Homo sapiens: one gene and its partners. The protein of the gene in region 1 purifies or fractionates together with the protein of each later gene. This does not show direct contact. Each region holds a gene or a part of one and is shown in the gene's direction. Other genes may lie near its edges.

Region 1 (4,056 bases):
GCCTCTCTCAAACTGCGTGTTTTAATGAAAACTCATTTAAAAGCATTGATTGCATCTGACCATCTCATAGTCTTGGTCAGGTATTTTTTGAAGAATTACACATTGCTTGGCATTTGACCAATGCTAAGTGGGCCTACTGACATCACCAGCAATCTAGAAATTAGAATTATTTGATTCCATAGTTATGTTTGTAACTAAGAGATTGTTATTCTTTTATTTCAAAGCTACCCTAATGTCCTGCATGTCTCCAGTTTATCTGATGGAGCTGAACTAATCTGAGTATATTATGAACACAAGCAAGTAAGTTATTTTAAAAAATGAACCTACTTGTACTAAAAATTTACAGGTAGAAGGGTTGTCTACTAACCATATTACCTAGAACAGTGTGGATCTTTAGAAAGTTAAATTAAATGATGGTAAAAAATCACCTCTTACCAGGTGCAGCAAACACAAAATACAGTAAACAAACAAACATATCTTTGTGCTGTAATTTGTTACCAAAATATTCTTTGTGGGATTGTGGGATTTCCACTGCTTTTTTTTCTTCTCTCTCTCTCTCTCTCTCTCTCTGTGTGTGTGTGTGTGTGTGTGTGTGTGTGTGTGTGTGTGTGTGGTATGTTCTCCAGTCTCCAGAGATGTAGATTAGAATTTTAAATTAAAATGTTCAGATAACTAGTTACAATCAAATTTATCCCCAAGAGTGGAAGGAAAGTGCAATGGAGAAATTGTTTTGTAAATTAAAGACATTACTGCACAAGCCTAACATGATGTTACTGGGGATTTTAATGTTTTTACCTGCATTCAGATTAAAAGTCATCAGTTTTCCCTGTCATCAACAATTTATTTATTCATCCATTCTATTTTTATATTTTTATGGATTGATATACCCAACACTATACTAATTAACCCAATTTACAAGATAATCTATAATCTTATTTAGGTTAGAAGGGTTTTTTGGCAAATGTTCACTCTAGAAAACTGAGTTGTAAGAATATGGGTGATCTCAAATTTGTTTCTGTGTGTGTAAAAGGAAAGGCTTCATATCTAAAATGACTTTACCTCAGTATACTAAATTGTTTGAGGGTAATGAATGAGAAGAACACAACTGTAAAAGGGCCAAGGACAGAGGGATGGGCAAATGAAGGAAAGGCAGAGAGGGAGACCAAGAGCTGAGGGGGAAAATTCTGTGGAGGGGTGTGGGAAAGGGGTGGAGCTGGCACCCTTGCCTTAAAAGCTGAGTGATAGCCCAAGGGATACAAAAGACCGCTTGAGCCGGGTAGGGAAAGCAGCCTAAAGCCCGGGACAGGCACACAGGCCCAGGTGTGTAGGCCACAGCAGCTGCAGTCCTGAAAGGCTGCAACGTCCCGACCTCCAGGAGAGACCAGGCCCAGGATGCCTCGCCTGTTTTTTTTCCACCTGCTAGGAGTCTGTTTACTACTGAACCAATTTTCCAGAGCAGTCGCGGACTCATGGATGGAGGAAGTTATTAAATTATGCGGCCGCGAATTAGTTCGCGCGCAGATTGCCATTTGCGGCATGAGCACCTGGAGCAAAAGGTCTCTGAGCCAGGAAGATGCTCCTCAGACACCTAGACCAGTGGCAGGTGAGAGCTCCCGCCCCCTCCCGGCCTTCCCGCGCTTCCCATTGGTTACTCTGGGGCGGCCGCCCAATTGGAACGGCGGCCTGCACGTCCGACTCGAGATCTCATTGGCTGCCACCGCTCAGCCCCTACTCAGCCGTGGCTGGTCCCTAAAGTTTGGGCTTTTCCTTTGCCAGGTGATTTTATTCAAACAGTCTCACTGGGAATCTCACCGGACGGAGGGAAAGCACTGAGAACAGGAAGCTGCTTCACCCGAGAGTTCCTTGGTGCCCTTTCCGTAAGGCAGTCAGAGCGACGGGGTGGAAAGGGAGGGGAAGCCTCAGAGGAGGTGACGCCGCCCGGAGACCCGCAGGAGGCCGGGCGCACTCCTGCACCCCACAGGAAAGCCAGGCGGCCAGACAGCGGGCGTGCTGGTGGGGGCACCTGAACAGGGCTTCTCGGATAGAGAGGAGAGGGGACAAACACTGAGGCGGCGCGCTAGTTATCAAGCCTGTTTGCGCGCCTGTAGGACGGGGCAACACTCTGAGGTCTCTGTGAGGGTCCCGTGATGGGAAGACAGGAAGGGCCTTACACTTAATGACTCTCCTAGTCCAGAAGTTGGGCTGTGGCCTTTGCCATTGGAAACGTTCTTTAAAATAAACAAACAGAAAATCCCAAAGGAAAGAGTCTGACCTCCCGCTTCTTTGATCTGGGTATTGAAGTTCATTTGTGAGGCAGGGGATGGAAGAGAAAGGAAAGGCTTGAATGCCTTTAGGAGAAACTCAAGAGGACCAGAGACAAGGAAAGCAGGCCGTTCAGACCATCATAGCTGAAGACCCTACTGATGCTTTCAAGCATTTGGAAGCTGCAGTGGGTTTGCTTTAAAGGCAAGCTCTTAGAGTTGAGTACAGCTCAATCTGAAATGGCTTTTAAAAATATTTTAGTATTTATAAAGTAGCAGTGGAAACTCATGGAGGTATATACTAGTCTAAGAAGTGTAACGGGTCATATTAAATTCAGAGAAAGTAACCGCAGTTGCAAATACTAAGTGTTTTGTATTAGTATGACATGTAATTTATGATAAACCGCAACTAAATTTTATAGGCTATATGCATATACTATATATAAATGACTCTAACAGAAATACATTTACTTCTCTTTTATGAGATTTAAAGTATGCTTCTAAAGTTATTTACTTTTCTACATTGTTAGAGTTTGATTTATTTAATGGCAGTTTTTACATGACTTTTGTATAACATTAGTACAAAAATACCACAACGTCTAGGAATTTAGTGATAAAAAGTAGAGAAGACCGGATTGCATTGCATTTGCTTTATTATTCCACATTTTCTGACTATAAAAGTAGTAATGCTCATATTAAAGACAAATGTACATTAATGCAGCGTGAAAAATGAGAAGCACTCGTAGATATTAAGGACTTTGAAAAGTATATGTGAATTTTATGAGAAAATGAAATTATATTAAACAAGTAAGTGGAAAGAAATGTTAACATTTGGATAGGTATATGTATATATCTTTTGCATTTTCACTCACCATTATACTTTGAGCAGTTTCTCACATTGTTATTATCCCAAAACACAATTTGAAATTCCTGTGTAGTATTTTTTGTCATAAATCTGCCACATACACTTAAGGATTCTTTGGTGGATATTTAGTTTATTTCTAAATTGTTGCTGAAAATACTTCATTAAGCACATTTGTATATAGATATGGCTACATTTTTATTTCCTTTGAAGAGACATGAGATTACAAAGTATTTTTAAAGAATTTTCTTTATTGATGTGCAGTATAATTTAACTGAAAGTAACCTCAGAAAATATTGCCTGCAGGTGGAGATTAAGACAAATGTTTACCATTACTAGGTAGGAATCGTTTTGGAAGTACATGTCAGTAATTTGTGATTAATTTGAGTTTTCAGACTTCTACTGTTAGGTAGTTGCTATTTGCTTCCACATTATTACATTGTTAGCCATCCATTTCATCCTACAATATGTGCTAAAATCATATTCACTGCATCCCTTTTAAAAATAAGATACCCTTTAAACCAGAAGAGGCCTATTTTAGTGAGATTTACATCCAAAATAATAAGTGAATAAGGGTATTTGTATGAATTCAGACAGAATATTTTCTTTGAGCCTAGGTTCCATAGCTAAAGGTGTTATGGATTATGAAATATTTCAAAACAGGTTTAAAAATATAATTTTAATAAAAGTATAAAATACACAGCCTATGAACAAACCTAATACAAACTATAACTGTTTTGGCTGACTCATTTAACTGGCTTTAAGTATATAGAAAATTACCATCAGCTTCTTTCAGTATTTAATAAGGCCCCAACTACAGAAAGTTTAGGTTGGATCAAAGAGAGGTTTTTATGATGAAATTGAATTAAACTTAGGATGTCTTACTGAGGGGAAATGCCAAAACCTCTCATTTAACCAAAAACGATATAAATT
Region 2 (3,500 bases), on another chromosome or scaffold:
GATTGCTTTTGGCAGTATGGCCATTTTAATGATATTGATTCTTTCTATCTATGAGCATGAAATGTTTTTCCATTGTCATCTCTGATTTCTTTGAGCAGTGGTTTGTAGTTCTCCTTGTAGAGATCTTTCACCTAACTAGTTAGCTGTATTCCTAGGTATTTTATTCTATTATTCACAACTCCCATTGTGAATGGGATTTCGTTCCTGATTTAGCTCTCAGCTTGACTGTTGTTGTGTATAGGAATGCTGGCAATTTTTGCACATTGATTTTATATCCTGAGACTTTGCTAAAGTTGTTTATCAGCTTAAGAAGCTTTTGGGCTGAGACATTGCAGTTTTCTAGAGGGATTATGTCATCTGCAAACAGGGATAGTTTGACTTCCTTTCTTCATATTTGGATGCTTTTTATTCCTTTTTCTTGCTTGATTGCTCTGGCCAGAACTTCCAATACTATGTTGAATAGGAGTGGTGAGAGAGGGCAACCTCATCTTGTGCTGGTTTTCAAGTGAAATGCTTCCAGCTTTTGCCTATTCAGTATAAACATCACTTTTATGTCCTACATCTGGTTGCTTTTTTGAGGAGGCGATGTGTAAATTTGGGCCTGTTTTTACACACACTTCCTGCAGGTTGATTTGTGAAAAATTATAACTATATCTTCCGGGAAGTTGATTCCATTGACAAATCCAGAATTTTGATATTGTCTGAAATATCTTAAAATACTTTACGTTAACTGTCAAATACATGACTATGTTCTATGTTGAGTAAGGATCACCATTTTTTAGAGGACTGATATGCATGCGTTAATATGCATGTTATAAGCCATTGTTTCCCCTCTGTTTGGTGGCACTGTGAACATAGTTGAACTTTTTTTCTTACCCTGAAACTAGTGAAAATAAAATTGTTTAAAATTATAAGAACCTGTCATTTAAGAAGTACTAAATGCTTTCTCTTTCTTGGCATATTATAAAGTATCTTTTAAAGATTACACTTTTATGATGTTATTAAGAGAGAAAAATTCCCTAAAGAATTGAATGAAGCATTGATTTAACAAATATTTATCAAGTGCCTACTTTGGTGCTTGAGAATGAAGACAATGAGTGAATACCAAAACCAGAATGGAAATCTTGGTTTCAGAGAAGAATTAGGCATGAAGTGTCCCAACATTAATTTCTTCCAAATACTTTCTTATTCCATTAACTTCTCAGCAATTTGACTAAAAGCCAAGTGTTGAACCACTTTTGGTTTGATAGGGACATGTGAAATTGGGGACTGAGGCGGGTATTGGGCAACTCTTTTCAATGTATTTAGGATGAATTTGAATAAGGAGATTTGAAGGTCCAAACCTAAAGACCAAATTAGTAAGGTTACATCTCACTGTTATTAATCACTGTCTGCTTGTAACTTTTTAGTTGTTGAGCCTCCTTCAAATTTGATTGCCATGGAAGTCTCTTCAAAATATGTTAAGCTAAATTGGAATCCATCTCCTAGTCCAGTGACTGGCTACAAAGTCATCCTCACACCAATGACTGCAGGAAGCCGACAGCACGCTCTGAGTGTGGGGCCTCAGACAACCACGCTCAGTGTTCGCGACCTCTCAGCAGACACAGAATACCAGATCAGTGTTTCCGCCATGAAGGGAATGACATCCAGTGAACCCATTTCAATAATGGAGAAGACTCAGCCAATGAAAGTTCAAGTGGGTAAGTCAATGTGTGCATCATTGTATTTGGAATATGTGAAGATCTGTTTGACAGAATGCCTTACTTGTTTGGACTTAGTTTTGAATGAAATATTTGCAATAGTTTTTTTTTTAAAGAAGCACGCTTACTAAGAAAGCTAGATATGTATATTTTAATGATTAATATGTATTGAAGTTTAATGTACTTTTTTTCTCTTTACAGAATGCTCACGTGGTGTGGATATAAAAGCCGATATTGTGTTTTTGGTTGATGGCTCCTATAGCATTGGGATTGCAAACTTTGTTAAAGTTAGAGCCTTTTTGGAAGTTCTTGTAAAAAGTTTTGAAATTTCACCAAATAGGGTCCAGATTAGTCTTGTGCAATACAGCCGGGATCCTCATACTGAGTTCACTTTGAAAAAATTCACCAAAGTTGAAGATATAATTGAAGCAATAAACACCTTCCCTTACAGAGGAGGATCTACAAATACTGGCAAAGCAATGACTTATGTCAGAGAGAAAATATTTGTGCCTAGCAAGGGATCAAGAAGCAATGTGCCAAAGGTCATGATTCTTATCACGGATGGGAAATCATCAGATGCTTTCAGAGATCCTGCGATAAAACTGAGGAATTCAGATGTTGAAATCTTTGCAGTTGGTGTGAAGGATGCCGTTCGCTCAGAATTGGAAGCTATTGCCTCTCCTCCTGCAGAGACCCATGTGTTCACAGTGGAAGATTTTGATGCTTTTCAGAGGATATCTTTTGAACTCACACAGTCTATCTGCCTTAGAATTGAGCAAGAATTGGCAGCTATAAAGAAGAAAGGTTAGTAGACTTTGAGAGTAAAAGTTATTTCTTCATGAACAAAGAATTTTTGGTTCTAAAATTGTGGATAATATGCTTGTTCAATTCTTCTTATAGACACGAAAAAGTAACTTTCCTATGTTATTGAAAACTATTGAACTTAGTTTTCTTAGCTCTGAGATATGACTTTCTCCTGGATATGGATCATATTTTAGTTGGTGAAAAAGCTGTTTAGTTACAAGAGTCATGAGATGTTTCTGTTCCTAGATTGTCAAGCAGGTTTAGGAACAAGTTTTATCATATGTATGTGTCATTTACAATCCAAATCCCATGTATGGGGTGTTCACTATGTGCTGGATACTGAGCTGGGTCCTTCAACTCAAAGGTGAAGAGAATATAGTCTTGCACCTTTGGATTCTTTTTATGCATTTCCTTTCCTGAATCATTTTGGGCATCATTTGTCACATCTGGAATTTTCCTCATTTGTCTGATCTACTTTTCAATGTGTAGTTAAAAGTCCCATCCCTTGAGTTTGTGTCCTTTTCAGGGACATGGATGAAGCTGGAAACCATCATTCTCAGCAAACTAACACAAGAACAGAAAACCAAACACTGCATGTTCTCACTCATATGTGGGAGTTGAATAATGAGAACACATGGACACAGGGGTGGCGGCATCACACACCGGGACCTATAGGAAGGTGGGGGGGCTGGGGGAGGGATGGCATTAGGAAAAATACCTAATGTAGATGACGAGTTGATGGATGCAGCAAACCACCATGGCACATGTACACCTATGTAACAAAACTGCACGTTCTGCACATGTACCCCAGAACTCAAAGTATTATAATAATAAAAAGTCCCATCCTTTTCATTAAGCCTTCCTAAACTGTAACTGTCCTAGCACTATCATGCTATCACTTTCACTCAGTTGGCTTTCCTATGTACTGTTTTTTTTTCTTTTTTTTTTTTTTTTGAGACAGGGTCTCACTCTGTCACCCAGGCTGGAGTGCAGTGG
Region 3 (3,500 bases), on another chromosome or scaffold:
CCCTCTGAAGGAGGCAGCCAGCCCTCCACCGCAGCCATCTGCAGCCAGCCGTGTACAATGCCCACCTCATGTGGCTAGATCTACTCACTTTTCAGAAGAAGCTGGAAATCCAGAGTCGTGTGTGAAATCTTTTCAGTTTTTCAACATTTGCAACCAATTCATCTTGTAAGCCAAATGAAACACTTCTGCAGGGCAGATGCAGCCTGTGGACCACTCATTTGCAAACTTTGTTGTCCTCATTTTTCCATCTAGAATAAACACCTTTCTTCACCACTCCTCCTATCCCTGGGCTCCAGCCCCCTCCCCATCACCTTTGGTCCCAGATGTGGAGGGCAAGTGGTCTGTTCCCTCCCTGTTCACCAAGCTGTCACTCCACCTTTCCCCAAAGTCCCTCCTGAAGGTGCTCCCTGCTTCCAGCCTAAGGCGCAGGGGCTGCTCCCCGGACCCCATCACTGTCTGCCTCCCTTCAGTGTCACTCAAGTGTGGCCTGTGCCCTCCTGCCCTGGTTCCTGGCACTTCTCCACTCCCTTCCCATTCTATAACTCTGCTGTTTATAGCACTTCTTCCTTATATTCTCCAGATGTCACCCAAAGCTTATTTCCTTACCTCTCTTTCTGATATTTTTCTCCCTTATCAATTATATCCAGACCAATAATGTTGACTTCTACGTTTTATGGGAAATGACTTCTCCCTCTCAGCCCTAGTTTCCTCTTCACTTCCAGACCCACATTTCAACTTTCTGGACACCTCCATCTCGTGTCCTATTGATAACCAAACTCAACATGTTTACAAAAGAAGCCCTAGAATGGGCAACATTTCAAAGGCCAGCCAGTCAGGAAATCCATCGATGGTTCCAATCCATGCTAGTGAGATTGCATGAGTGATAGAGCGACAGGACATGAGCCTGGGGGTGAGTGGGAGCCCTGTCAGATGAAGCGAGAGGAGAGGACAGGCTGGACTGGCAGAGAAGGTGACAGTATCAGCATGAAGTTGCAGTGTGTCATCAGGTCCTAGAAGCTGTGGCAGAACCGACACTGTTGGAGAAGGAGATGTGTCAGCAGGGGTGGGCCGTAGCCCCAGCTGGGTGAAGAAAGGGTTATGAACTATGACCTCAGGCAGGGAGTGGCTCAGAGCAGTGATACAGTTGTTACTCAGCACAGCCGTGATGTGAAGCCAGGCCTAGAAGGATTCCATACCTTCACACTCCCTTTAGGTGGGACAGGCCCGCCACAGTCAGAGAACAGGTGCCAGGGAACATGACCAGCCTCTTCTGCCACCACTCCATGTAGAGGAAGTGATGGGTTCCTGGTGGGCCTCCCAGGCACTATAACCCAGGGGCAGGTGGTCAGGCAAAAAGCCTTCCTGCACAAGGACTCCAGCTCTATGTGTCTTCTAGGATCTATAAGTACCAGGCCCACGGCTATGCCTTCTCGGGTGTGGAGGAGCTGCTCTACTCACTGGGGGAGTCCACCTTTGTTAACATGACCCAGCACTCTGTGGCTGAGTCCCTGCTGCAGGTGGGCGTCACGCAGCGCTTTATTGATGATGTCGTTTCTGCTGTCCTGCGGGCCAGCTATGGCCAGTCAGCAGCGATGCCCGCCTTTGCAGGTAAGCGTCCAACCCTTGGCCTGCCCACCTGCCCCTCCTCCACCCAAGGTGCTCAGAATGGGCTGGGGGTCCCCATAATAACCTCACTTTTATCCAGCTCATTGCAGTCACATAGGCACTCTGCTGCCCCATCCTGCCTGATTCTGGGACTGGCCATGAGTTGGCAGGAGATAGTATCACCCCACTTCACAGACAGTGAAAGCAAGGCTCAGATCACAGGTCCAGTGTGTTTCTACCACTCCCAATTGCTTCATAATCCCTTGCATGTGTGTAAATGTTAGAGCTGAGATAATGCTCTGCTCTCTACACTTTGGTTTCAAGAACTGCCCTGTTGAGGCCTTTGAGCCACTGTGAGAGCACCTCCTCTTCCCAGCTCTTCACGGGAGTGGCTGGGCCTGTGTGTAGCTCACTGTCTGCTAGCACAGACCACAGGAGTGGAGAATGTAGGCTTCACAAGAGCAGGAATCCTTGTCTATTGTTCCCTGATACATTGCAAACACAGAACAGTGCCTAAGTCATACTAGGCACTGGGTATATTTTTGTTAAATAAATGAATGCAAAGGTTTACAATAACAAGCACCTCCCTCGTACCCTCGATACTGTTCATCTGGCTCTGCACATGCTGGCTCCTTCGCAGCCTTCAGGCCCTGCCTCAGTGTCCCCTCAGTGTTCCTTGCTCACTCTTTCAGTATCTTGTGTGTCTCCTTCATAGCATTTTTGTGTAGAGATATATAGAATTCACATACCATATAATTCGCCCATTTAAATTGCACAATTCAGTGGTTTTTAGCACATTCGGAGTTCTAAAACCATCACCACAATCAATTTTAGGACATTTTTATCACCCCAGAAAGAAACCCCCTTGCCCTTTAGCCCTCACCTCCCCAACACCCCCCGGCCTCCCAGCCCTGGGCAGCTACAGATCTGCTTTCTGTTTCTGTGGATTTGCCTAGTCTGGGCATTCTGCATAAATAGACCTCACAATATGTGGTCTCTGGGAGCTGGCTCTTTCGTTGAGCACAGTGTCTTCCCCCCATAGCATTGTGCACTTTGTTGTACTTACTTGTATGTTTGCCATCTCCCCATGCCCATGGTTGGGAGAGTTTTGCTCTGGCAGGGAGGCCCAGTCGAATAGTACTGGACTCCCCAGCCCTCCTGCCCCACGGCCCTGACAACCTATCAGCACCCACTTCCCGCTTTGCCCAGGAGCCATGTCACTAGCCGGGGCCCAAGGCAGCCTGTGGTCTGTGGAAGGAGGCAATAAGCTGGTTTGTTCCGGTTTGCTGAAGCTCACCAAGGCCAATGTGATCCATGCCACAGTGACCTCTGTGACCCTGCACAGCACAGGTGAGTAGACAGGGCGGGAGTGGGCAGGCATGCCATTCCCAGCCAGTGGACAGACACTTCTGCCTCCTTTGTACCTCAGCCCTGGTCTGTGATCCCCCTGGGGAGTATTTCCGAAAAAGCATTGAGAAGCCCCAACCCTGCCAGGTGACACTAGAGGGTGCTGTTTCCCCAATTCAGATGTCAGCCAGAAAGCTGAGACTTCCATCGACCCAGCCTTTTTCTGTTGACCGATGAGGACTTTGAATGACATCCTTGCCCACGCTCCCCCAACTGGCCAGCGGCGGAAGCAGAGCAGAAACTGAGTCTCCTGACTCCATGCCCCTTGCTTCTTCTGCAGCCGCATCAGCATGGAGAGGCCAGGACCCACCATTTAGACAGCCCTGCTGCACCCTGAGCACCAGGGTCTCGTTGTACCTCAATGCTGGACCCCAGTAGGGAGTTCAGTGGGTAGAAGCCAAGGGAAAGTTGACTTTTGTGCTCTTTTCTTTCCAGAGGGGAAAGCCCTGTACCAGGTGGCGTATGAGAATGAGGTAGGCAACAGCTCT
Region 4 (3,500 bases), on another chromosome or scaffold:
ACAAGTATGCACCACTATGCCTGGCTACTTTTTTTTAAGAGATGGAGTCTCGCTATGTTGTCTAGGCTTAGTCAGCTGTTAAAAATGATTTGATTGCAAACAACTATGTGGTCTGCACTGTTCTGGTCATTTTTCTTTTTCTTTTCTTTTTTCTTTTTTTTTTTTTTTTGAGACGGAGTCTTGCTCTGTCGCCCAGACTGGAGTGCAGTGGTGCGATCTGGGCTCACTGCAAGCTCTGCCTCCTGGGTTCACGCCATTCTCCTGCCTCAGCCTCCCGAGTAGCTGGGACCACAGGCGCCCGCCACCACGCCCGGCTACTTTTTTGTATTTTTAGTAGAGACGGGGTTTCACTGTGTTAGCCAGGATGGTCTCGATCTCCTGACCTCATGATCCACCCGCCTTAGCCTCCCAAAGTGCTGGGATTACAGGTGTGAGCCACTGCGCCTGGCCTGTTCTAGTTATTTTTCAACTGTTACATCTTTTGTTTTAATGCACCACTTGGCCTTATTATCCTTATTTGGCAGATGAGGAAATGGAATAGAAAGAGAAACAGAAAAGTTAAGTAACTTACCTAAGGTAACACAACTCGTAAAGGATAGAGTGAGATTTTGAATGTAGGTTTTCCTTTGCCAAACCCCAGATTTCCCACTTCAGTGTACTACATGTTGGAGGGAAATCGCTAACGAATTTGGTTCATGTTTGGACAGATCAGTGACTTTTTTGTAAAGCCAAAGAATTCTTACGTGTGAATGATTTCCAGCTAGTAGAGAAAAACCTAAACTATCTATAACCTCCAGGAAATTAGTCATTCTGGCTAACCGCATTTTTCCAGGTTAATGAAGATTTAATATTTTAAAAATAAGCATTTTTATATTTCTGTTGACTAAAAACATTCACACTGTAGAAATTCTCACGTAGTGCATAGAATATTAAACATGCAATGGTGAATTGATAAGGTCTCCCGCACCAACTGTCACCTGATTCCAGCTGGAAGCTTATTTAATGGTGCGGCATTTCAGATGGATAAGAATTTGTTATGCAAACAAGGGTTTGTTCACATTTGATTTTCTTAACTATCTAAAGGCTCTAAACAGTGAGAGATTTGCCCAGAGACAAGAGCCTTTCCCACCAATCAGCAGAGCCTCTCAGTGTTCCAGAGTCCCAAAGACATCTTCATTTGAAGGGTTCGGGGCCTTAATTAAAGGACTGCATTTTGAGGTCTGGATTTCCAGGTTATCAATTTTGGGAACTGAAAAAAACCTTTCCACTTAGAAAGTCATCATGGGGGCTGGGCACAGTGGCTCATGCCTGTAATTCCAGCACTTTGGGAGGCAGAAGCAGGAGGATTGGGTGAGGCCACGAGTTCCAGACCAGCCTGGGCAACATAGCGAGACCCTGTCTCTACAAAAATAAAAAATTATCCAGGCATTGTGGCATGTGCCCGTAGTCCTGGCTACGTGGGGGACTGAAGTGGGAGGATCACTCGAGCCCAGGTGGTCCAGGTTGCGGTGAGCCATGATCACACCACTGAACTCCAGCCTGGGTGACACAGCGAGACCCTGTCTCAAAACAAAACAAAAGCGATGATGGGAAGTTGTCTTTTACTGTTAAAATGGAAAAGTGTGGGAGAAAATTAAATTACGGCTATGCTTTTTCATACTAGGTGGGCCTTCTTTCCCAGTATAGAGTCACCCTTTTACAACTCTGAACTTAAGATATAAAATGAGATGGTCGATTGTTTAGTAATCACTAGAATTCTATTCCCTCCTCGAGGTGTAAGTGCTGTCTTCTTAAATGGGAGAAATCTGTTTAAGTTTCATGATACATGCTGACACTGTGTATCTTACAAGTAAAGATGCTCTCTCCAACTTTGGGTTAAAACATGCACAGAACATAAAATTCTTGGTGACTGTAAATGAGATCTATCCATTACAGTGGGTTACTTTATTCATTTCAATATGTTACTTTGAATACCTGCATTTGAATTAAATGAGATTGCTGGCAGGTGCTGTGGCTCATGCCCGTTACCCCAGCACTTTGGGAGGCTGAGGTGGGCAGATCACCTGAGGTCAGGAGTTGGAGACCAGCCTGGCCAACATGGTGAAACCCCATCTCTACGAAAAATACAAAAACTTGCTGGGTGTGGTGGTACATGCCTGTAGTCCCAGCTACTCGGGAGGCTGAGCCAGGAGAATTGCTTGAACCCAAGAGGTGGAGGTTGCAGTGAGTCAAGATTACGCCACTGCACTCCAGCCTCGGCAACAGAGTGAGACTCCATCTCAAAAAAAAAAAACAACAAAAAAATGTGGTTGCTGAGAATGTCACACGTCCAGACCAGTCAATTGCTCTTAATTATTTAAGTATACACACGACTTTCTTTCATTATGCTCCTTATGAGTCAAACAAATATGGAGTGCAAAGCTTTTAAGACCTCTAAAATCTCTCCATCAGTTGTATGCTGCTGTGAGAGTAGAAATTGCTTTCATGGAGATTTGAAAGGGAAAAAAATTTAAATAACGATGTGATTTAGTGTGCAGTTGGCAAATCAGCATACTTAAAATACATGAATATTAAAATAAAGAATGCAATAAACATAACTACTGACTTACAATTTATTGAGCAACTGACTTTTAAATAAGATTTTTTCCACTCAGACTTTCTTCATAGACCTTCAGAGTCCCTCCTATTGTTATTTTTTTCCAGATCACTGTTACGTAGAGGCTTATCCTACTCACAGAATTTACCTGCATATTTAAATGGCATAATTATTATAAAAAGGCTCTGGGATACCTTTGGGCTCAGTACTTTAGCTGAGAAATTTTATACATAAAATGACACCTGGCTAATAAAAGGAAGCAAATCGGCATTTATTCAGTGTCCGTTAAGTGCCAGGAGCTTCACCGTGTGTCTCATTTAATCACATTGCAACAGTCACAACAGTCCTTTCAATTTGGAGCAGTAGTTGCTCTTAGTTCGGCAGACAAAGAAACCCAGCTTCATGTAGGTGAAGAATCGGCCCAAAGTCACAGAATTTGTAGAGCAAGGATCTGGACCCAGGCCTCTCTGTATCAAAGGCCTTGGCTATATTTTCCCATGAACTCTGCCGGCAGACACGAAACTACCTCTGAAAGGAGAAAGAAAATGATTTTTTTATTTGTTTGTTTTAAACAATAGAGGCTTTATCTCTCTTGTGTCACATTTTACTTTAGGGTTTAACACAAGTCTGTGAACATCCAGAAACACTGGCTTCATGTTGCTCCATCATCCCCAGTAAGAATTATACCAAGAGGCCGGGTGTGGTGGCTCACACCTGTAATTCTAGCACTTTGGGAGGCCGAGGTGGGTGGGTCACCTGAGGTCAGGAGTTTGAGACCAGCCTGGCCAACATGGTGAAACCATATCTCTACTAAAAATACAAAGAGTTATCCGGGTGTAGTGGCACGTGCCTGTAATCCCAGCTACTTGGGAGGCTGAAGCAGGAGAATCACTTGCACCCAGGA

The links. The genes of interacting proteins can lie anywhere in the genome.
Region 2: the proteins of RLN2 (region 1) and COL12A1 purify together in Homo sapiens (affinity purification with mass spectrometry; one large-scale study listed by BioGRID and IntAct). This does not show direct contact.
Region 3: the proteins of RLN2 (region 1) and PCYOX1L purify together in Homo sapiens (affinity purification with mass spectrometry; one large-scale study listed by BioGRID and IntAct). This does not show direct contact.
Region 4: the proteins of RLN2 (region 1) and TENM3 purify together in Homo sapiens (affinity purification with mass spectrometry; one large-scale study listed by BioGRID and IntAct). This does not show direct contact.

The regions. Positions count from the first base shown.
Region 1 is NC_000009.12:5,301,917-5,305,972, reverse strand, and holds the start of RLN2 (prorelaxin H2 isoform 1 preproprotein), read left to right. Parts: upstream 1-1,256; 5' UTR 1,257-1,392; coding exon 1,393-1,603; intron 1,604-1,707; exon of another isoform or gene 1,708-1,776; coding exon of another isoform or gene 1,777-1,877; intron 1,878-4,056.
Region 2 is NC_000006.12:75,182,054-75,185,553, reverse strand, and holds part of COL12A1 (collagen alpha-1(XII) chain long), read left to right. Parts: intron 1-1,409; coding exon 1,410-1,700; intron 1,701-1,901; coding exon 1,902-2,504; intron 2,505-3,500. UniProt on the Homo sapiens protein: Type XII collagen interacts with type I collagen-containing fibrils, the COL1 domain could be associated with the surface of the fibrils, and the COL2 and NC3 domains may be localized in the perifibrillar matrix.
Region 3 is NC_000005.10:149,364,546-149,368,045, forward strand, and holds part of PCYOX1L (prenylcysteine oxidase 1-like isoform 1 precursor), read left to right. Parts: intron 1-1,396; coding exon 1,397-1,608; intron 1,609-2,814; coding exon 2,815-2,955; intron 2,956-3,447; coding exon 3,448-3,500. UniProt on the Homo sapiens protein: Likely to have oxidoreductase activity. Required in the mevalonate pathway to regulate prenylation and enhances the bactericidal activity of neutrophils.
Region 4 is NC_000004.12:182,249,902-182,253,401, forward strand, and holds part of TENM3 (teneurin-3), read left to right. Parts: intron 1-3,500.